Homo sapiens: one gene and its partners. The protein of the gene in region 2 interacts with the protein of the main gene of each other region in a biochemical or structural test. Each region holds a gene or a part of one and is shown on either strand. Other genes may lie near its edges. The genes, in order: RNF13, TRIM29 and HDAC9.

The links.
Region 1: the proteins of TRIM29 (region 2) and RNF13 form a complex in vitro, tested with the Homo sapiens proteins (one study listed by BioGRID).
Region 3: of the proteins of TRIM29 (region 2) and HDAC9, one has a biochemical effect on the other in vitro, tested with the Homo sapiens proteins (one study listed by BioGRID).

The regions. Positions count from the first base shown.
Region 1 is NC_000003.12:149,844,103-149,851,214, forward strand, and holds part of RNF13 (E3 ubiquitin-protein ligase RNF13 isoform 1 precursor), read left to right. Parts: intron 1-1,908; 5' UTR 1,909-1,924; coding exon 1,925-2,038; intron 2,039-7,112. UniProt on the Homo sapiens protein: E3 ubiquitin-protein ligase that regulates cell proliferation. Involved in apoptosis regulation. Mediates ER stress-induced activation of JNK signaling pathway and apoptosis by promoting ERN1 activation and splicing of XBP1 mRNA.
Region 2 is NC_000011.10:120,135,111-120,142,345, forward strand, and holds the start of TRIM29 (tripartite motif-containing protein 29), read right to left. Parts: upstream 3,004-7,235; 5' UTR 2,922-3,003; coding exon 2,118-2,921; intron 1-2,117.
Region 3 is NC_000007.14:18,995,669-19,002,780, reverse strand, and holds the end of HDAC9 (histone deacetylase 9), read right to left. Parts: intron 6,759-7,112; coding exon 6,719-6,758; 3' UTR 365-6,718; downstream 1-364. UniProt on the Homo sapiens protein: Responsible for the deacetylation of lysine residues on the N-terminal part of the core histones (H2A, H2B, H3 and H4).

The DNA of each region.
Region 1 (7,112 bases), on a different chromosome or scaffold from region 2:
CTAAAATTTAATAACAACTATACCTTATTTTGTAAATATTTGTGTGCTTTTATGGTATGATTTCTAACCAGAAATTGTCCACATTCAGTGATTCACTAGGAGCATTTACAAGACTCAGCACATGGTTGTACTTATGGCTGTGATTTATTACAGCAAAAGGATACAAAACAAAATCAGTGAGAAGAAAAGGCACATGGGGTAAAGTCCAGAGTAAATCAGTGTAAGCGTCTAAGGGTCCTTTCCCAGTGGAGTTACATGGGATGCGTCTAATTCCTCAAGCAAGTTGTGACAACACATGTAAAATGTTTACCAGGGAAGCTCATTAGAGACTCAGTGCCCAGGGTTTATATTAGGGGTTGTTAATATAGACACTCTCTGTCTAGCATGCACCAAAATTCTAGATCCTAGAAGGAAAACAGGTATTCAGCACAAACCACATTTTTTGTAAAGTGTAGGCACACTGAGCTGTTCTTACTAGGAAATAGTGGGAACTGTCCTGAAATCTAAATTTCCAGATGCCAGCGAGGGGCCAACCTTGCAAGCAGACCTTTCTAGGGATAGCAATCTCAGGCCTGCTGTGTTAACTCTTTTCTGTACCATGGTATGTTATGAAATGTATTTTACTTAAGAAACGAATGTCAACAAATCTAGACATTTAAAAAAAGCTTTATTGAGATACAATTCTCACATTATAAAATTCAACCAATTAAAGTGTACAATGCAGTGATTTTTAGTATATTTATAGAGTTGTGCAACCATCACCAGAGTCTAATTTTAGAACATTTTCACCATCTCCCCTCCAAAACCCTTACTCATTAGCAGTCATTTCTCATTCCCACCTTTCCCCTCCCTCAAGCTTTCCCCCCACGCCCTGCCAATCCCTAGGCAACCACTAATTTACTTTTTGTCGTTAAGGAACAAATCTATACTTTAGCATGTTTTCATTTTTATTTCATCTCTGATATTAGTGGCTTTGTAAATGGTACCTTAAAAATTATTCACAGGTATTTTACTTCCAGTGTGTGAGTCAGAGATTCAGAGTTTGAGTCTATATGGCAGCTTCTATATCTAGAGCACTTATCCACACTAATCATCATCAAAACGGATATTACATGAGTTTGGGATATTTAATGAAATAATTCATTATAAAAGCCCTTGTTTTTGTAATGTTCGTTCTCACTTGTTTAAGAGTATATAATACAATTGATTGAGGCTTACCAATGATAATTTTTATATTTATGGGTTGACATTTAGTCTTTTCACGGTATCTTTTTGCTAAAAGAGAGAAAGGGACTCATAGTGAACAGGATGAAGTTGGGAGAGGTAGTTATGCTGTTGCCATTCAGACGTAGAGAGGGGAAAAAAGCATAGATTGTTAGGAGGTAATGGACAAAAAGTATTCCTTTATTATAAGTGGCTGTTAATTTTTTGGCATTCTCTGATGTTGGTACAATATACAATAGCAAATGAAAAGTAAATTTACATGTGAATTTATATTGAACCAGAAGTAAAAATTTTTTAAGTTGTAGAAAATTTTCAATTTTAAAGCAAAGATGCTTGTGTGTATGTTTTTAACCATTATTTTGGTTGAAATCTAGTTTCTCTGAAATTTGGGTTAGTAAGACAAGCTGTACTATAAACTGAGCACTGTGGGAGGATGTTTGTTTTGTGATTAAAACAGAACTTTGTCATCATGAGTTACATAGGTATTGACTAAACATGGGTGTTTACCTAAATGTCCAAATCTGTGTAAGTTCTTATGCTTTTGAAATAAAAGCTTTACTTTTAATGTTAATACATGTTTATAATTAAAAGGGATATTTTTGGACATTGGGAATTAATATATCAAATGATCTATTCCCTGGGACAAAGCACCAGCTCTCAGTTACTCACATCCTTGTCTTCCAGGTGATTTTACAACGAGATGCTGCTCTCCATAGGGATGCTCATGCTGTCAGCCACACAAGTCTACACCATCTTGACTGTCCAGCTCTTTGCATTCTTAAACCTACTGCCTGTAGAAGCAGACATTTTAGCAGTAAGTACAGTAAAATTTATTCATGTCTAGAAACATCCCTTAAAGAAAAGCTTAAAAAAAGCCTGGAATGATATTTATAAGACATTGTTATAAGACATTTTTATCTAAAAACATACCCCAACACATATACACAGTTACTTGACATTGAGGTACCTTATTCATTTGTTTATTTATTTTTTGAGACGGAATTTCATTCTCGTTGCCCAGGCTGGAGTACATTGTTGCGGTCCTGGCTCACTGAAACCTCCACCTCCCGGGTTCAAGCAGTTCTCCTGACTCACCCTCCTGAGTAGCTGGAATTACAGGCGTGTGCCACCATGCCCGACTAATTTTTTTGTATTTTTAATAGAGACAGGGTTTCACCATGTTGGCCAGGCTGGTCTTGAACTCCTGAACCTAAGGTGATCTTCCCGCCTTGGCCTCCCAAAGTGTTGGGATTACAGGTGTGAGCCACCACGCCCAGCCCCTTATTCATTTTCTATTGCTTCATATCTAATGTAAGATCTCATGAACAATCAGTACCTGATAAATAATGTTGCTCATGAGGGTATGTGTGCACATGTGGGTGCTTTGCACACATACCTACCTGCTGTGTGCTTACATAGAATTTTACTGTTTTTCTTGGTACCTAGTACATCTCTTAATGACTGTAAGATCTCAGTAGTATCTCTATTGATAATAATATTTAAGAAATTCTATAAGATGTTCATAGAAAATTTCAACCCAAGATTAGCATTAATGAATCAGAAGAGAAGCACAGTGGTCCTATCTTTGATGGTGGATAGAAAAGTTTTTAGAGAAGAAGAGTGCTGCTCAAAACCTTAGCATAGCCTCTCTTAGCTACTGTCTTACTTTCCTCCACACTGGGGAGTATACAGATGGTCTCCAGCTTAAGATAAGGCTTGACTAGTGAGCTTTCGACTTTATGATGGTATGAAAGTGATATGCATTCAGTACGCACCTCAACTTATGATGAGATTATGTTCCAACAACCCCATCATAAGTTGAAAATATCATAAGTAGAATTTGACTTATGAAACATTTTTGACTTAGATATTTTCAGTTTATGATGAATTTATCCAGATGTAGCCCCATTGTAAGTTGAGGATATATATTTTCTATTTCTCTTTTTCTGTGAAGGTAGAAAAAGAACATACATGCCTATACTCTAGGTCTGTGCTAAGGATTTGGTTTTACTTTCTGGGTGCAACTGATTTGCTTAATGATATCAGGTGAGAAATAAAAGGGCAAGAATTGTTGCTGACCAAAGCTTGATGTGGTCCCCAGCTGTGCTTCTGCACATTGCAGTAATTCTGGAAGATTCTGAGATCATTGTAGCACTTGAGAGAGCCAGGCTGGTTTCCATACCACAGCTTTTGAAGGCAGAGGATGCTAGTAATCCATACGAGATTTCTAACCCCCTGTTGTCCTCTGTAGTAGGGAACTGGTTGATTAGGTTTGTTTTGGGGAATAGTCTTGGTCTTTTTGAGGTGGAATGGAAATAGAGCCTTTAAAGACTGAGTCCATTGCTATCCAAATCTCCCTTCTAAATTGGTCCCTAAAATCCTTAGAATATTCTTGGCATGACTTTTGAAATGAGTTAGAGGATTTATGGACTGATCAGGGAATAAACTTCTCCTTGTCTCCTTTCTCTCCTTTGATTTCTTCCATTTTGTGTCTCTCTTTTTCCCTCTCTGTTGTTTTTAATACTTTTTGCCTTCTTTCTTTCATTTATACCCAAGGTGGATTGCTATTCTGTGGTGGAGCTCCCTGATGGGTTAAATGATTTTCAGTGTTGTGCTCTGGGAACTTAAGCAGATATATAACCTTGATCAAATTACTCAGCTGCTATAAGTGCCACAGTTTCTTTATTTCTTCATGTAAACTGGAGTGTTGTGGTGGTGATTAAATAAGATAAACTGCTTAGAATAGTATCTGACACATAGTAAATATTTTATATATGGTTTTAATCTTCATTATAATTATCATTCTGATTATACTTCATTCAGCCCCTTGAGAAGATACAAAACTACCTGAGCTGTATTTTTTAATTTAGAGACAAAAAAAAAATGTTAGGTATGGAAGAATGGTCAATCCTTTTTGCCAGCAGTGTTCCTTGTGCTTTACACAGGTACTTGTGGAATGTATGTTGATGTCCTGTAGTGAAGGAACTGTAAGATGGGAGCTGCTTAAATCTGGTCTCTATGCTGTCCATAAGGATAGAAGGCTGACACGAATGCAAAGATGGCTGGAGGGGAGTGGCTTGTGAAAGCATATAACTGGTAAAACAGGGAACTAAAAATTGAGACAGAGGAACTGGATGTGTGACAATCATTCAAAGGAAGTGAGTTAAGAGGTAGAAAATAAGAGCACCTCCTTTTAATGCAATAAGAGCATCCCTGAAATCTGAGTTTGCAGTAATACAGATATAAATAAATTAGACATCTAGTTCCAGTCAACTAGGTTGATTCTAGTTCCATTTGCACAGGGCTTGGGGTGCTGCTTTTGAAAAATTAAGTTTTAGTTATGCTATTTGTAATGCCAGATGCCTTTGATTTTTTGGTTGGTTGGTTGGTTGTTTTGTTTTGTGTTTTTTTTGTTTTTTGTTTTTTGTTTTTGGCAGTTGAATTCAATTCACAGACAACAGTGTTTGTCCAAGTAGTTGTTGAGTTCTAAGAGGCTATGGAGATGCTACTGTAGCATCTAGTCTATAGCTGACTAGACTAGCTGACTAGTCAGACAGACCTCTAGGCCATGAGTACTTGGAAGGCAGGACTGTGTCTTACTAAACTTTATTCCTGGTGCCTGGTGTCAGTTACACAGGAATTCAATAAACGTTTGAAGTAATTAAAAGCCTTCTCTTAGAGATTTTGTACCATCACATTTTCTTTTAATAGCATCTGTTCCTTAGTACTTTTAGATTACTGTTTTTATCTCTTATCATTTTTCTTTTACCCAAAAAGAAACGTAATACTATTAATTATGTAGGTTTATACTAGAAACATGGAATTTTAGAATTGCACTTAAGAGAGAACTACATCAGTGCTGTATATTCTGAGACTCAGAGTCCACAAGTGACATGTTAGTTTTGAGTAGTGCCCATGATTTTACTGAGAAGTAACATCCATCTTATATGAGAGTCAAACAACCCATGTAGCTTGATGCCCAGTCTGCCTTTTGATTCTTTTGTCTGGATTTGTCAGAGAGAATTGGTTGCTGGGTAGTGATTATTGAGGGCCAGTGTGCTGTGTAGCAAAGAAACACCCAATGGGTGGTGGTGTGAATGGATTGGATTATATAGCATGGGTAGTCCAGGCTCCAGAAATGGATTTATAATCAGAGTTGAAATCCAGCTCTACCACTCTATTTGCATGACCTTGGGCAGATTACTTAACATTTCTTAAGTCGCAGTTAACTTTGTAAAAGTGAGAGTTTGTGAAGGACAGTGCAGGGTAGTGGGTTAAGGGCTGGAGCTCTGTGGCCAGACTGCCTCGGTTAGAATCCTGGTTCTTCTAATTTACCAGAGCTTGTTATTTTCAACATTCTGTTGTCAATCTGTAAAATGAGGATGATAGTAATAGTGGCCTACTTTGTAGAGTTGTTGTTAGGATTAAATAAATTATTACCTGTAAAGTGCTTAGCATGATGTCTGTACATAATGAGTGCTCAGTAATTGTTAGATATTTATTACTTTCTAAATTCAATTAAACCTTTTGTTAAGGAAGCTGTCAAGAAAAATAATTGGTTAAGGAAAAGACCTTTTCAAAATAAGTGGAGTCAAACTTATGTGGTAATCACTAAGAATGGGATTCTAGTGAGGAGTAACTATTTTCTACTTCAGATTTTTTTTTTTTTTTGAGATGGAGTCTTGCTGTGTTGCCCAAGCTGTTGTGCAGTGGCGCAATCTTGGCTCCCTGCAACATCTGTCTCCTGGATTCAAGCGACTCTCCTGCCTCAGCCTTGCAAGTAGCTGGGATTACAGGCATTTGACATCAGGCCTGGCTAATTTTTGTATTTTTAGTAGAGATGGGGTTTCAACATGTTGGCCTGGCTGGTCTTGAACTCCTGACCTCAGGTGATCTGCCCACCTCGGCCTCCCAAAGTGCTAGGATTACAGGTGTGAGCCACCACATCCGGCCTACTACTTCAGATTTTTAAACAGTGAACATGCTTTAATTTTATGAGCATCGCTCCCCTCCCTCCTTATACCAAAAACGTAAAGTACCTTTGTTAGTCTTGTTCACTGTAGGAACATTTTTTGTTTTAAACAATATGATTTTAAGAGACAATATGAAACAATCCTTATTTTGCTGTTAAGGAAAGACAAAGCAGTTTCAAAAAGGGTTTCATTCAGTAACAAAACTTATTCCACATCTCAGTGTTACAAGTACTGTAGTTCAAGCTAGACATTTTATTTCTATAATTTTAGCTATAATAGTGAAACTCTTAAGTAATAGGAAGAGATAAAAGAATACTTTAGTATAGTTTGTAGATTCCCCATTTCCTAATTTCAAAAGTACATTAAAAAATACTGCTTACACACATTTGTATTTTGTCCTCATTCTATTTCCATTGATCTAGATAAGTTACTTTATTTTACAGTGACATCTTTGGCTGGGATGAATTAAATGTTTTTCTCAAGTTCAACATTAACCTGATCATAGGTGAATTAAATCAATTAAATGTGTTTTAATTAAGAGATTAAACGATAGATTGTGATAATGGGTTTAAAAGCATTTTGTAACTCTGAAGTACTTTGTAAACTATGGAGTACTCTGCAAATATGAATTATTGTTGCAATGGGAAATCACGCTGAAGCAATTACCACATATACTTGATGGCCTCCAAGTACACTGCTAGGATGATTATCCCAGCAATGACAGAATGAATAGGTTTAGTGACTGCATTTAGATGCTTGAATCACACAGTTTCCTGAGCTAATTACAAGCATACAGTGAGAGGCAAAGGTATAAGATGGACATGCTAAGACACTCAAGATAGGGTTCCAGTGGGATGCAAGAACCACACTACCTGAATCCTGGGTCACTTGTTGTAGTTTGTCCAGTCTTCCTGT
Region 2 (7,235 bases):
TGCCCAAGACCCTCCTGCCCACCAGAACCACATCTTCCAGGGGTGCCCAGGCTTAAGCAGAGATATCCTTGGTTGAGACCAAATTTGAGGCCAAACCCACATAGAAGATAATCAATAAGAATGTCCTTTGCTTGTAGTCGAGGTGGGAACCTGAATGCTCCGCCTTCTTGACACTTCTTTACCCCCTCCTCATCCTGAGGCCTCGAAGACATGTCTAAGAATTCCAGGGCTCTGTGGGGTAATTTGAAAACCAACAATCTAGCCTCACCCCTTGGGAGAATGAGACTGAGCGTGGAAAGGACTTATTCACAGCCTTACAGTTAGTTAGAGGCAAAAACTGGGACTGGAACTCGGTCACATTTCCTAAAACCTTGTCTGAGGCTCTGCAATTTCTCAGCTGCTGTGATGAGGATGATTGCCTCTTGTTCTGTCTAACCTCCCAAGTAAACTCCCTAGAATGAGTTTCATGGCCCCGTCCCATCTATATCTCTCAGTATGAAACCTGAGGCCACGCTGGGGTCAGAAGATGGGGGAAGCTGGAAACATCTTCTTCCTGGGCCAAACGAGGCTTCTGGAAGGAATCTGTGAGTCTGTTCCCCTCTCTACCTCAGCCCTTTCTGTCCAGGGGTGTGGGTGAGAGATGAAGGGAAAGAGTAATCAACCAGCTCCTCCTGGTCAGGAAGGCTGGGCAGGAAGGAATCCTCTGCTGTCCAGATCTGAGGTGTGCAGAAGCTCTTCAGGAAAGTGGAGTTCACTGCTTTGGAGGCCAGGAAGGTTTGCCCCAGGAAGGCCACCCACAGCAGGAAGCTGTGTACCTTAGGGAAGAGTGAGCCCCACATCTGTGGGGCAAAGGGCAGTGGCCACAGCTGGGCCCTTTGCCCAAATCACCTTCCCCAGGTATGCTACATCCACAAGCCTGCACTTGCCTCTGCTCCTCCCCATAGAAGTACAGGCACAGTCACATAGAACTCATGCAAACACACTTACGTATCACATATATGAATACATGCAAACATCCACAAAGGCACAAAAACACCCACGTGCACATAAAATAAACACATATACAGATGCTCCTCAACTTGTGATGGGGTTATTTACCAATAAACCCATTGTAAGTTGAAAATGTGATAGGTCAAAAATGCTTTTAATACACCTAGCCTACCAAGCATCATAGCTTAACCTAGCTTACCTTAAACTTGTTCAGAGCACTTACATTAGCCGACAGTTTGGCAAAATCTTCTACTACAAAGCCTATTTTGTAATAAAGTGTTGGATTTTATGGAATACTGTACTGAAAGCATAGCACTTTCACATCATTGTAAATCAAACCATCCTAAGTCAGGGACTAGCTGTACACGTACACGCCATCCACACACAAACTCCAAACTTCCCCAACGGTGTCCGCCTGCAGGAATATGTGTGTCCACACACAACCACACACGCAAAACACAGGGCCCAGCTGGGAGAAGGATAAAGGAGGCTGTGGAGGAAGTCAAGAGACCAGCTGGGGATCAGCTAGAACAAGAAGCCACTGTACGACAATAAAAACTACAAAGACAGCAAGAAGGACCTTTCAGTGGGCCCCAAAATTCTCTCCTTCTAGTATCTTTCCTCACCCACAACCCATTCCCCAGGGGCCAGTCCGACTCAGGTTGGAGGAATTATCTCTTCTTCAAAGCAAAAAAAAAAAAAAATAAAAGAAGAAGAAGAGGAGGAAGAAGAGGAAGAGGGAGAAGGAGAAGAAGAAGAAAGAAACACCTCAGCCAGGCACAGAGCCCAGAAGTGAGGTCTATGCAGTTGGGTCATACTCTCTAACCTGACTCGAATTTATCCTATGACTTTGGTCAGGCCCTCAACCTTTTCTGAGTCTCCATCCGCTCATCTAGAAAATGTCCCTGTCTCCTGAGACCTTAGGGGATTGGGGAGCAACCTCTGATCCCCAGCTGGGATTAGGGGGGACAGGGGGCATGAGGGGAAATAAATGTTTTCTAAAAGAGCCAAGGACAGTAGAAACTTAAGCCCCAAACCCGAGGAAGCCCGAGTGGAGAAGATGAAGTTCGGAGGGGTGGGGTGAGAGAGGAGAGGCCTGGAGGGGCAGGAGGGGCCCCAGCACTTACCTCCTTCTCGGCCTTGGCCTCCTCCACTGTCACGGTGCTATGATTCTTGTGCTCCTGGAACATGCAAAGGTAGCAGATGCAGGTCTGGTCGGTCTGGCAGAAGAGCTCCATCGTCTTGCCATGCACGGGACACTTGCGGGCCTCAAAGTCCCGGATGGGCTCGAGCAGCTGGTGGTCTCGGAAGGCGGCGCCCTCCAGGTGGGGCTTGAGATGCAGCTCGCAGAAGGAGGCCTGGCACACCAGGCAGGACTTGACCGCCTTCTGCTTGTTGCCGATGCAGGAGTCGCACAGCACCTCCTCGGAGCCGGACTTGGACCGTGAAAAAAGGCCCGTGTCGGCCCGGGGGTAGCTGTTCCGCCGGGTCTCCCCGGGCTCCATGATGGACACCGTGGGCTTCCGGGACTCCGAGAAAATGGACTTGCGCAGCTCGCCCTTTTCGGCAAAGGTAACGGGTGGCTTCTTGGCAGCCCCCAGCTGGAGCCCTGCGTACGGCGACCTCTTGCCTTCCATAGAGTCCATGCTGAAGTAGTTGGAGTTCTTGTCGTCCCCGGACTCGACAAACTGGATGATGGGTCGCCGCCACTCATTGCCCGCGAACAGGGCGCTCCTACCTTCCCCTGGCTTCAGGGCGCTGCCCAGGCTCTTGCCCTCAGCTGCCTCCCCGCCGTGCCCGTTGGTGGTCTTGGCATCCTTGCCGTCAGCCTTGGTGCCATTCTCCAGGCTGCCACTGGGGCCCGACGGGCTCCGGGCATCCCTGGCTTCTGGGCTCGACCCGTTGCTCCTGGAGGCATCTGCAGCTTCCATCGCAGGGTGCTTGGCTGAGCTGTTTCAGGCTTGCTGGGGTTCAGGATAGGTGACCTTTCTGGCAGGCGTCTCGGCAGGGAGTGGGGCAGGCAACCACGAGGACTAGAGACACACCTGTGAGGAGGAGGAGGGGGAGGAGGCGGAGGAGGAGGAGGGGGAGGAGTGGAGGGGAGGAGCAACAGGCACAAGCCTGACACAGCGGCCCGGGAGAAGCAGGGAGCCCCGCAGCCAGCAGAGCAGATAATTGCACAGGAACCACGCCCTGCACATTCATCCCTAACCTGATTTTTAAAAGAAGTGTTTTTTCTCCCCCAGCTTATTTTCCACAACTCAGCAACCAGTTGGGCTGCTTCCCTCTGACGCACTTGCTTCTCATCCGGGGAGCGGGGAGTCTCCGTCTTCACAAGTGGGCAGGCTTCACTGAGCCCAGAGGCCCCTGGGGCAGAAGGTGAGGTGTCTGCAGAGGCCTACCAGACACAGGGCTGTTAACTGGGTCACACAAGCCAAATAGCCTTGTAATTTGCAGGCCTGAGTTTCAGAGGAAAGATTGTCCACCCTGGGACTGTATCGCTGCTTTTCACCTTAAGGGGGAAGGATGGGTTCCATTTGATTTGGCTACTGAGTATTGAACCCTACTTGCCAACCTCCAGGCACTTTCCTAGGTATTGCATATATTACGAGCTCATTCAGGCTTCCCTAAAACCTGTTCAATTACCCCTTTTTAACAGATGAGAAAACAGGCTTTAAGAAGATAACTCACTGGCCTAAGTCAAGTGGCCGAGCTGGGATTTGAACCCTAAGCCTTTGAGAAGCCAAAGTCCCTTCTTCAGCTGGGTGGTCATGGAGTCACCTGAATATCTCATCAGAAGATGGCTTCTGAGAGTCTGTCCTATCCCAATGGCCCCAACAAGATACATATAGACCTTAGATTATTGCTACCTGCGTGGATTCAAATGACCAAGGCACAACAATGAGGGGAATCCAAGCAATGCCAGCCCAGGTGGTTGGGTCCTCAGGGCCCAAACACTTGACTCTCACCTGTCTCCACACTTGGTCTGCTGTGTGACTCAGAAAACACCTGCCCATCCTCTCTGGGCCAGGCCACAGGCAATGCCCTCCAAAAAGAGGTCAGCAAAGTGTGAGATTCAGATAATCTCAGAAGTCACCTGTTCAAATATGACTATCATATAAATACAGACCTCAGGAAGAAAAGTGAGAAAAACAAACTTCATCCCCTTCCTCTCCGTGGCCCCTGCGGAACACCAGGACCCTTAGCTCTTGTAGGACATGCCCCCCAGCCACTTCTGGGCTCTGACCCATTGACCTGGTCCTAGGAAGCCTCCAAACCCCTAAGGAAAGGGCCGTGCCTCTCCAAGGCCAGGCTGGGCAGGGCAGAGCAGACAGTAGGTGAGGCTGGCGTGGCAGGTTCTGGGCTGTGTGGAGGGGAATGGGTTTCCCTTCCTTCCCCTCCAATCCATGTCAAGCTAGGAAGCCCCCGCCCCTTTGCCTCACCAGGCTGAGCAGCTAATCCTTTGCAAAAACAGCCCCTGGGAACAAGGGCAGAGACAAGCCCACCTCACAAAGCAGTTCACTTATGAGAGGATGTATGTGAGGTGGTGTTGGCGTGGGGAGTGCTGGCTTCATGACGGGGATTCTCCTCTTGCCTGAGGTCTCTGTCTGTGGGCCCCAAAGGAGCCCCCTCTTGTTTGAACTCACTGGTGAATTGGCTAAGAGCTTGTTGGGCCTTCTGGGGAGGGGGACACTTACTCAAAATGCCAGGCCCAATTTCTCTGGGCTCTTGCCTGAGGTACGGAGGGAGAAGGAGAGAAGGAAGTCCTGTCCTGGCCTGCTGGATTGGGACATGCCCCTCCCCTTTCCCTAATAATATTTCCCTAACCTGGAGAGAACAGGCGGTGAGGAGAAAAGAACAGAGAGGACACAAAGAAACAGAAGAGGAAAGTCATTGGGTTCTGGCTACAGTCCAACATCAATGCTGGATGAGCCTGGGGCACCCTGGAGGGCCTCCGCTAGTTCTTACAGTTCATGCACCCATCTTCCAGAAATCTGGGGAAAGATTCTGAACCTTAGGAATAGGCTGACACAGAGTAAATGTTCAGAGAATATTTGTGGGTGGGTGGATGGACAGACGGATGGATGGATGGATGGATGGATGGATGGATGGATGGATGAATGCATGGAAGAAGTTAAAGCTAGATGAATGTGAATTGGGAAATAAATGAACAGATGGATAAGATGTGTAGATAATGGATAAGTGGGTGGTTGGATGATGAACAAATGGATGAATGGATGGATGGGTAGATGGATGGGTAAATGAAATAAGTAAAAACTAGATGAATATGAATAAGGAAATGGGTGGATGGATGGATGGACAGATAGTTGAAGAAATGGGTAAAAGAATTTTTAAAAGAATGGAAGAAGAGAGAAAGAAAGGGTGATACATGGGAAGGAGAGAGGAAAGAGAAGGGAAGAGTAAGGAAGGAAGGAGACAGATAGGCAGTAAGTAGGTGAGTGAGTGGATTGCAAGGTATGCTGATAAAAGTTTAGCAACGGACTCTTCCAGGCACAAAAGCACTGGTTTGTAGCATTTGAAAATTTCACCCTAGTCAGTCTCAAGCTACCAATGTGAAGAGCACTGGAAAGAGATGCACACAGTCAGCTCTCCCAAGCCAGTGAGCCTGCTCCAACGCATCGCTGGAGGACTAGTGCATGATCAAAGTGGAAGACATAAGAGGGAGGATAGAAAGATGGATGCTGGAGGATGTCAGGGGAACAGGTTCAAGTGATTCAAGGCAAAGGGAAGATGAGGCAAATTTCTCTCTTCCAAGAGGCTTTCCCTAACCCAAGCCCAGTGACCACTGCCCCCATTCAACCCCTGTAACATCTATCCCTGCCTGTCCTACTCGGGAAGCATTTAGCTCAGCCCACCTGGTGTTGTTAATTATTCATTCATTCACACATACTTGTTGAGCATCCTACCATGGGCCAGGGTTAGGCAAGGGACTGATCATACGGACAGGAAGGAGTCCCAGATCATGCCCTTGGGGAGTTCATAGTTTAGTGGGAGGAGAGATCAGTAAGCAAATCACTTGGATTTGGCATGAACAGTGAATGAGATAAATGTGTGTGAGGGGCTTGGGCTGCTCAGAGGAGGGAGGAACCAGCATGTGCTGAGAGAGGCTGGTCTCTCCAACCAGGATGAGCATGGCTCGCTTTCCATGCACATAAGTGGCCTCCCTGGCTACACAGAGACAGTGTTTGACTTGACTCAGCAGATATTTATTCAGCTGAATTCTCAGTGGGTGCTGGTTGACTGGTCTTTTGGTTCTCCTAGGCCAGGGTGCAGGGCCCCTCTTCCCTTGAGGGACTGCTCTACCCAAATGCCTAGCAGAAGGTAGAGTCTCCTGGAGATCCCAGAAGCCAAGAGCTGAAAAGAAGCAAACAATTGTCCCTTCAGGGCTGGTCCCCAAGCCCTCGTCCCACCACCCCAACATCCCTCCTGGAGCTGAACCAAAGAAGAGGATTCCCACCCCTGGAGGTCTGAGGTCTGGATGGGCACTGCACACCTCATAGGAAGGTGATCGCTCCCCAAGCTCCCCAGGCCCTCACTCAGGACCTGACTACAGGCAACCGCGTCTGCTGAGGTCCTGCCCCTCTCCAGCCTCAAACTCAGTTGCACAGGTTCCATAAAGGGCATTTCCTAATGGCCCTCAGAGCCTATGTGTCCTGTGCAACTTGGCAAAAAGCCCCCGAAGACCATCATCTGCACTGCTGTGGCAGAGAGGCCTCTTCACTTTTAAAGGCCTTGAAAGAAAGGGAGCCCGTGAAGTCCCCCACCCCAGTCACTCCTCCCACATCTCACCCTGTTCTCCCTCTGGTCTAGCTTAAAGTCTTCCTGCTGCAATGTTTCTCCCTATACCAGGTGGTGGTGAGATGTGACTGGCTGCCAGCCCCTGCCTCATCCCTTGCAAGCTTTAGAAGGTAAGAAGAGCTGGCAGGTGTGGCTTCCAGAGAAGGATTCCTATGGAGCAGAGGCAACTTCTACCTCTTCCTGCTTGGCCCTGTCAGACCAGGCATGCCTGAAAGCCCCCACAGAGTCCCTCCTCCCACACGCACCCGTGGGCCAACCCCAAGCCTCCTCCCAGGCTTCTCCCATGAGGCACCTCAAAGCTGTTCCCTTCCTGGCAGCCTCCCTTGATTCAGCAGGTGGAGCCACCTTCACTTACCTACTGTGTGGCCTGGGAACACCTGATTCTGTCACCAATCATCTTTAGATGAAAGAGGAAACCCCTTAAA
Region 3 (7,112 bases), on a different chromosome or scaffold from region 2:
GAGACTAATAACACCTATGAGGCAGGGTTCGTGTGATGGTTAAATATCATTCAGGTACAGTGTTCAGCAGAGTGACAGGCACATGGAAGGTACTTAATCAGTGGTAGTTATTATTGTTCTTTATTCTAACCATCAAGCTACAATCAAATAGCAACTGTGTTTTAATTTACTTCTTCTTTTGTGAATTTTCACATTATTTTAAGGGAGATTTACTCACAAGTAAATCTTTTTTTTTGAAAATGGAATAGTACATTTTGTGGTAATTCATATTTCATAATATTGTATTTATCCAACAAATATTCGTCAAATATCTGCTATCCAGAGTCTAATGGTAGGCACCAAGGACATAGAAAAATAAGAACACTTTTATTTCAAATAGCTTTTTATTCACATAGGACTAGAGGAAAATCTAATTCAGTAGAAAACACAAAACAAAAGGGGTTATTTTATTCTATTCAAAGGAGAGTCATGACATTAACAACACCAACAATAATTTGGAACACACCATTGCATTTTCAAATACAAAAAAGGAATCAGAAGAAGGTGGACATTCCATGAGCATGTTCAACAATGGTATTGTTATTAGATATTAATCCTTTATTAGATTATTATTTTTCACATCTGGGAAAATACCACTGGCAGCACAATTTTAAGAAAAGTTTGGCAACATGTATTTTTCTCAGCAGCTCTGGATGACAGATCTTGGTGATGCTAGCCAAAAAAAATTAAGGGCAAAACCACTGGTGCACAGAGGACAACAAACTGATCTTATTACAGAAACGGATATCAGACCACAATAGAAAAGACATTTTTATTTTACACTAAGCCAAAAATTCTAGGCTATTGGCATACATATCAACAAGCCTGGTCTAGAATGTTTAATCACAAAAGTACTAAATATTGGTTTCCTGCCTGCCCTGCTCACCTTATTTAAAAATATCAGGATATTTGCTTTCAAATGACACAGATTGCTGAGGCTGTAACCTACAAAATGGTCACTCATTTTTAACGGCTTGTTTGTTATACCTAGAAACCACTGAAAGGACAATTTCCTATATCATAGTTACTGTGGAGGTAGACACTGACGTTGCTTCCCCAGAAAGAATTTGAGACTATTAAAGTGTAGGAAGAACAAATCGGGAGTTTTATCTAAAAACAACCCTTACATACCCAAGGAAGTGCCATTCCACTTCAGATTTTGCAATTCTTCTCTGTTTTTTGTTTTTTTTTTTAATTACTCCATTTCTGTTGAATTTTAAGTTAATAAAACCAATAGCCAAATATTGCTGCAAGATCTCTATGAATTGTCACAAAATGCCAACTCCAAGAAGGGGCATCACAATGAAGGATTAAGGACATGACCACAATGTCCCAGGAAACAGTGAACTCTCCCTATTATATTTAATATTGCAACATTTGCTTCTATTGTGCCTAAGGCCCAAACAAAAAAATAAAACGATTCCAATTTGCTTTAAAAAGTCTGGAAATCTCTTCCTTTCAAAACATACTGATTTAAAGTTTCTCCTTTTCCAGTTTTCTTTCAGGTGAGAGTTCATGCTTGTGGGTTTGACTCAAAGACATCTCCCAAAGGACAAGGAAATGTATGTACAATTTTCTTTCCACAATAACTAGTACAACATGATTAGGTAGTAGCCAGATGATGGCAAACTATGTTTGAAACAAAAAGAATAATTCTGCATTAGTAAAACAAACTGCCAAGTCCAAAATTGTAGACCAAAATACAATAACTAAATCTATCTTTTAAGAATATTTGAAAAAGTCAAGTGACTCTTGAAAAGAGAAGAGATAAAAAACAAAAGACAGAGTATCTATCAAAATGTTTATATAAAATGGCATGAAAGACAGTAGGCCTAGTGGTATCTCAGAAAATAAGTTGTCAAGGTCATTTCTACTAAGGAAACAGAGATTTCAGAAACTTTTGATTGCTTAGATATTGGCAATTTCGTATAGATTGTTAGGCAGAAAAAGAGAAGAGTTGAAAGAAAATTATTTGTTAGATTGTAAGTTTACACCAGATTCACCATGTATTTGCTAAATGTTTCAGTTTGAGAATTAAGATGCTTTGAGAAATTGCAACAACCTTATTACCTTATCATTGGATCAAGTCCAAACAGCCCCAATCAAAAGTCTAAGGTTTCATTGTCTGACCTAGTTATTTCCAGCATAGTAATAACGGACTTAATTGTATTTAATGTATTTTACAAAACCATTATACGAAGCCAGGAATATCATAGATAAAACGGACTGCAGTTGATTTGGAGAAACTAAGTTATGTAGTATGAGTATAGCATGTGTGAGTATACCACGTTCACTTACAAATGTCATCCTCTGGTCACTTGACAATCATGCTCTGCTTCATGAAGCGTTTCATGGAGTAAAAGCAAGCAAGGAGGCAAGGACTGTGATTTTTGATGCAAATATGCCCAGAAAAAGTCACATATAGGAACTTACATATTTAATGGTGGTGTTGATGAAGGTGACAAGATACATTATAATACTTTATTCCAAAGGCAGCACATGGTACAAAATCCTGCTGGAGACTGTACTACAATAGTGGCCTTTGGAAACAAGAAATTTGATGATGATCATGACCATGTTGATCAGTTCTGAAGACAACAAAATGCCTTCACTTCTTAGCATAGACCATCTGGTTTTCATTTCTTTTGAAAGTGAAAACGCCATCTTTATGAAAATAGTTCAACAGGTGTGTTGTTTTTTACTTCTATCTTGTTTTCCCCTTATTTTCTCAGCAGGACAAGTGATTTCATTCCTGAAGCAGGAAAAGAATGTTAAGATACATGCCACTAGAAATGACAATGTCAAACACTGACAGAGTCGTTTCAAGCTCAGAATGAATCACTTTTAAGACAGTACAGTTTGGCTTGTTTCTTTTGGGGCCATAAGACTTTTAATACTTCTTTCATTGAGATAAGATGAGAGTAAACATTCGACAGAGAAATAGTAAGAAATATTTAAATTAATTCTTCTAAACATAAATGCTGGGATTAAAACAATAAGTTTGGCCGGGTGCAGTGGCTCACACCTGTAATTTCAGCACTTTGGGAGGCCGAGGCGGGCGGATCACCTGAGGTCGGGAGTTTGAGACCAGCCTGACCAACATGGAGAAACCCCGTCTCTACTAAAAATACAAAAATTAGCCAGACGTGGTGGCGCATGCCCAGCTACTCGTCAGGAGAATTGCTTGAACCCGGGAGGCGGAGGTTGCAGTGAGTCGAGATTGCGCCATTGCACTCCAGCCTGGGCACCAAGAGCAAAACTCTGACTCAAAAATAAAAAAGTTTTAAAATGCTGATTGAAGAGGAATTTTTTCCCAGGAGACTTTCCAAATGATCATTCTATTTTACTTCCATATGGAGTCTGTAAAGAAACCCAGTAAATCCACGAGGCTTTATAATTGCCCTTTGGAAATAAAGCAGGACTAAACTATTAAGAGAGACCAGTCCTGTAATTTCTGAAGCCTTTGTGGGAGGAGATCCCTGCTTTCAAGGCCATGATGTTGTCAGTGAAAGGTTAGTGAGAGTGTCGTATAGGGCTGGAGTAAAAACTGAAGGCAATATTTCCATCCCCAGGATTGGTAATGGAAATGTGATTTGTAGTAGTTTTTTCATAAATATCTCTATTTTCTCCAAAGCTGACTTCTGTCTCCACTATTGATGTTATAAACTTGTTACAATATTTAAAGATAGTTCATCTCACAATGTTCTTTCCATTTACTAAGCAATGGTAACATAGCCTCTGGTTTTATTTGAGTCCATTTTGGTTACTATTTAATAAAACTGTCTGTGTTTTTTAGTTTAATATACAGCCCCAAATTATACAATTGGGAAAATTAATTTTTAAGCCTTCTTTTTATACCTACGTTTGACAGCTTATTAAATTCCTAGTATTATTTACTAGTAGATTTATCAAAAATCATTTTTATTCACCCTGTATGAGATACCATGAGACCATGAGAGAGCGTATGTGATTTTCCTTCAAAGTAAGTATCACAAGGAGATGCAAAATTGATAATACTCTTCTAGCCTCTCATTCAGAACAACTGCGAGCAATAAAATTTAAACGGGTAAGTGAAGAAAAACTATACCAAGTGAAACTACCCTTTCAAAAAGTGCTGGTCTATTTCAAAAGAAGTGTTGATATTTTCGGAAAGCCTCCATTCTGTCCCTCAGGGCTATGCTCCATCTTGTAATGGTATAATCAAAAAGCAATGGCATTCTGTTCTTACAACTACATGCTGTGGATAATCCTCTCCACAGTTCATTTGCTTCTCCAGGTATTTTAAAGACTCTAAGTGCAACCAATTGGGTATGGTGTCATATGGGAGTATGTGTGATTAACTCATTAATGTGTCAAGTTTTAAATCTAAATAACCATGGAGATGTCCTAGTGATTTGGCTTTATCAGATTAATGGCTTGGCATAAACATGTGGCTAAACTGTTGTAGGAAACTTTAGTAAATTAGCATGTTTGCATTACACTGTTTTATTTTCTTATTCAACAACTAAAAAAATATCTGGGAGGACTAAAAAGTAATGACAGAGATTTATAATTATGAAGTTGATTTTAAAACTACACAATTATTTTTCTAATTAAAACATGAGTTTCCTTTTTAAAATGGGGGAGAGTCTTTTGTTAAGCCTTTGGCTCTACTATTTTTTTAAGTAAATATCCTCAAGCAATCACTGCAAAATAACATAAGCTAGCAAATATGATTGGTATGAATTTCTCATGAAAATAAAATTTATAAAAAATTGATTACTACTATGAATCTAGACTGAATTTGCCCTTACGCAATGAAAGCAATTTTTACCTAATACTAAGTTACATTCCATTTCAGATTTCCTATTTCAAAGGGTGTCTCAAATTTCTAAGAAGTTAAACCAAGTATTGAGCCATTTTTGTATATGTAATAAAAGTCTTTAAAATTAAAATGGTAATCCTAAAAAAACCAAATGCATGAAAAATATGGTCTGACTGTATAACAAAGGGAGTTATATAATTCTACTTGAGTGAAATCTTTCATCTTTGATTTACAGGTTAGAGTCCTCTCTAACTAAAACCATATTGTTCCATATCTTTCATATCATGGCCTTCCCTAAAACCTTGTTTTAATTAAGGTTTCTTTCAGATTTCTGAATAAAAGCATGACAATCTTCACTTATGGCTTTAATATATCCTTTGAGTTAGAAAAATATATAAAAAGAAACATCAACTCTTTCAAAAGCATTGTCAGATATTAAATACTGTGAGATATTCTACCTCAATATGTTTAGGTGTTTGAGTTATATGTTGAAATCGAATTTTAGGAGGTAGGAGGATAACCTACTTATATTTAGTAAGTTACTTTTTATCTCAGAAATAAATGTCCTTTATTTTTAACTTTTGACACTAAGGAAACTTGTTTAAAGGCTGTTTTTTGTTTTTGTTTTTTTTTTTTTTCACAAGAAGGCACAGCTTCTAGGTTAAGTCAGTTCAAGGTGACTACAAATAAGCAGTGCCTTCATTAACACATTTCAAACACATAGAAATTTAGCAACGTTGCTTAAGTGATATTCATTTCAACGGCTTCACAGTTAATAAAATGCAATCAGACAAAACAACTGTGTTAACCTGTAAAGTAAACAAAATAAACTAAATAGTCAAGGCCCTCAAGTAATAAGAGGAGATTATGGGTAATCTTCAGTTTTTCTAAAGGAAGGAATGAATGATGAAAGGTAAGAAGAAATCAATTGATAGAGGGCAGAAAAGGAAAGGTGAGTGAATAAGTCCTTGATAGATATGCAACAAATTAAGACCACCTTTGAAAAGTTACGTGCTTTTCAAAGACACTGAAAATGCTTGGTGGAACATTTGCTCAGACCTACTGTCATGAGAACAAAGGATGTGTGTGTGGCTGGGAGGTGGGGGGACTTCATTCTCCAACACAATTGCAACATTGCAAATTGCCTGTGTGTGAGAACACAAAGATGTTGGGGATGTTTAAAAAAAAGTGATATAAAATATTGCACCATTACAAACAGTGTGTGAGGTTCCTTTGGCATTTGGACTTCGAGATACTGAAAAAAGCCTCATGCTAGTTCCTCCATCTTGAACTTTTACTAGGAACAGTTGAACTGTGTGTTAAAGTTGAGAAAAAAACCCTAACAAAACAAAACAAACAAACAAGAAACATTACATTCTGGGTGGAATTACGATCCGTTCATAGCTAAAAGCAAATCTTGTAAACAAGTTAAGACTGTTTGAAAAACAAATTACCCCAAAAAAAGCTGATCAGAATGTCAGGAATGACTATGTCTCAGGTTTTGCCCAAAATTTCACTGGCTGTCATAGCTTCTGAAATTAACAATATCTAGTGCTGTACTGAATGTTTCTAGTTCAAACTTGGTGTCTAGGAGTGGGTCACCCAGCATATTAAAAGCATGCTGGAAGCAGTTTCTTCCAATCGTGGTTTACTGTAACTCTAGAATCACAGCGGTTACGTTTAAGGAATCTTTAATGCCCTTTCAAGTCCATCCAAAGAACAAGTGAAGCTGCTGTTCAGAATTTTGTGCCCAGTGTTTATGTTCCATTGAATCTGTGCCACCCAGGCAGCAGACAAGACATGTCTGAGGGTACTGGGGTGGGGGGATACACAATGATGTCACACACAGGAAATATCAGAGGGGGACTTGGCACTTCACAAGGCTGGCTCCTCTTCCATAGGCTCACCAGCAGTTCTGTAAAAATAAACAGGCAATCAGAATACGGCATAAGAGTACACAATGACATTGTAGATTTTCATGCATAATCAAAGCTGATTTTTCAGCTCTCTCTGATGTTTATTTGTGTTATTCAGTTATCCATAAATAGAATTTCTTTCCTAGGAAGTATAAACAAATGTCAAGGGGAAAAACATTTTCGATCCAAGCAATCACTGGAAATGTTCCTGTTTATATTAAAACATGTCAGAATATTTTATAACTCTAGATTCCAAAATGTACATGTTTGGTGTCTAGTACAGTTCAATAATTTATTGAAAAAATTAACTATGATATTTTATTTTAGGAGCAACTGCAGTGATTTCCTATGGA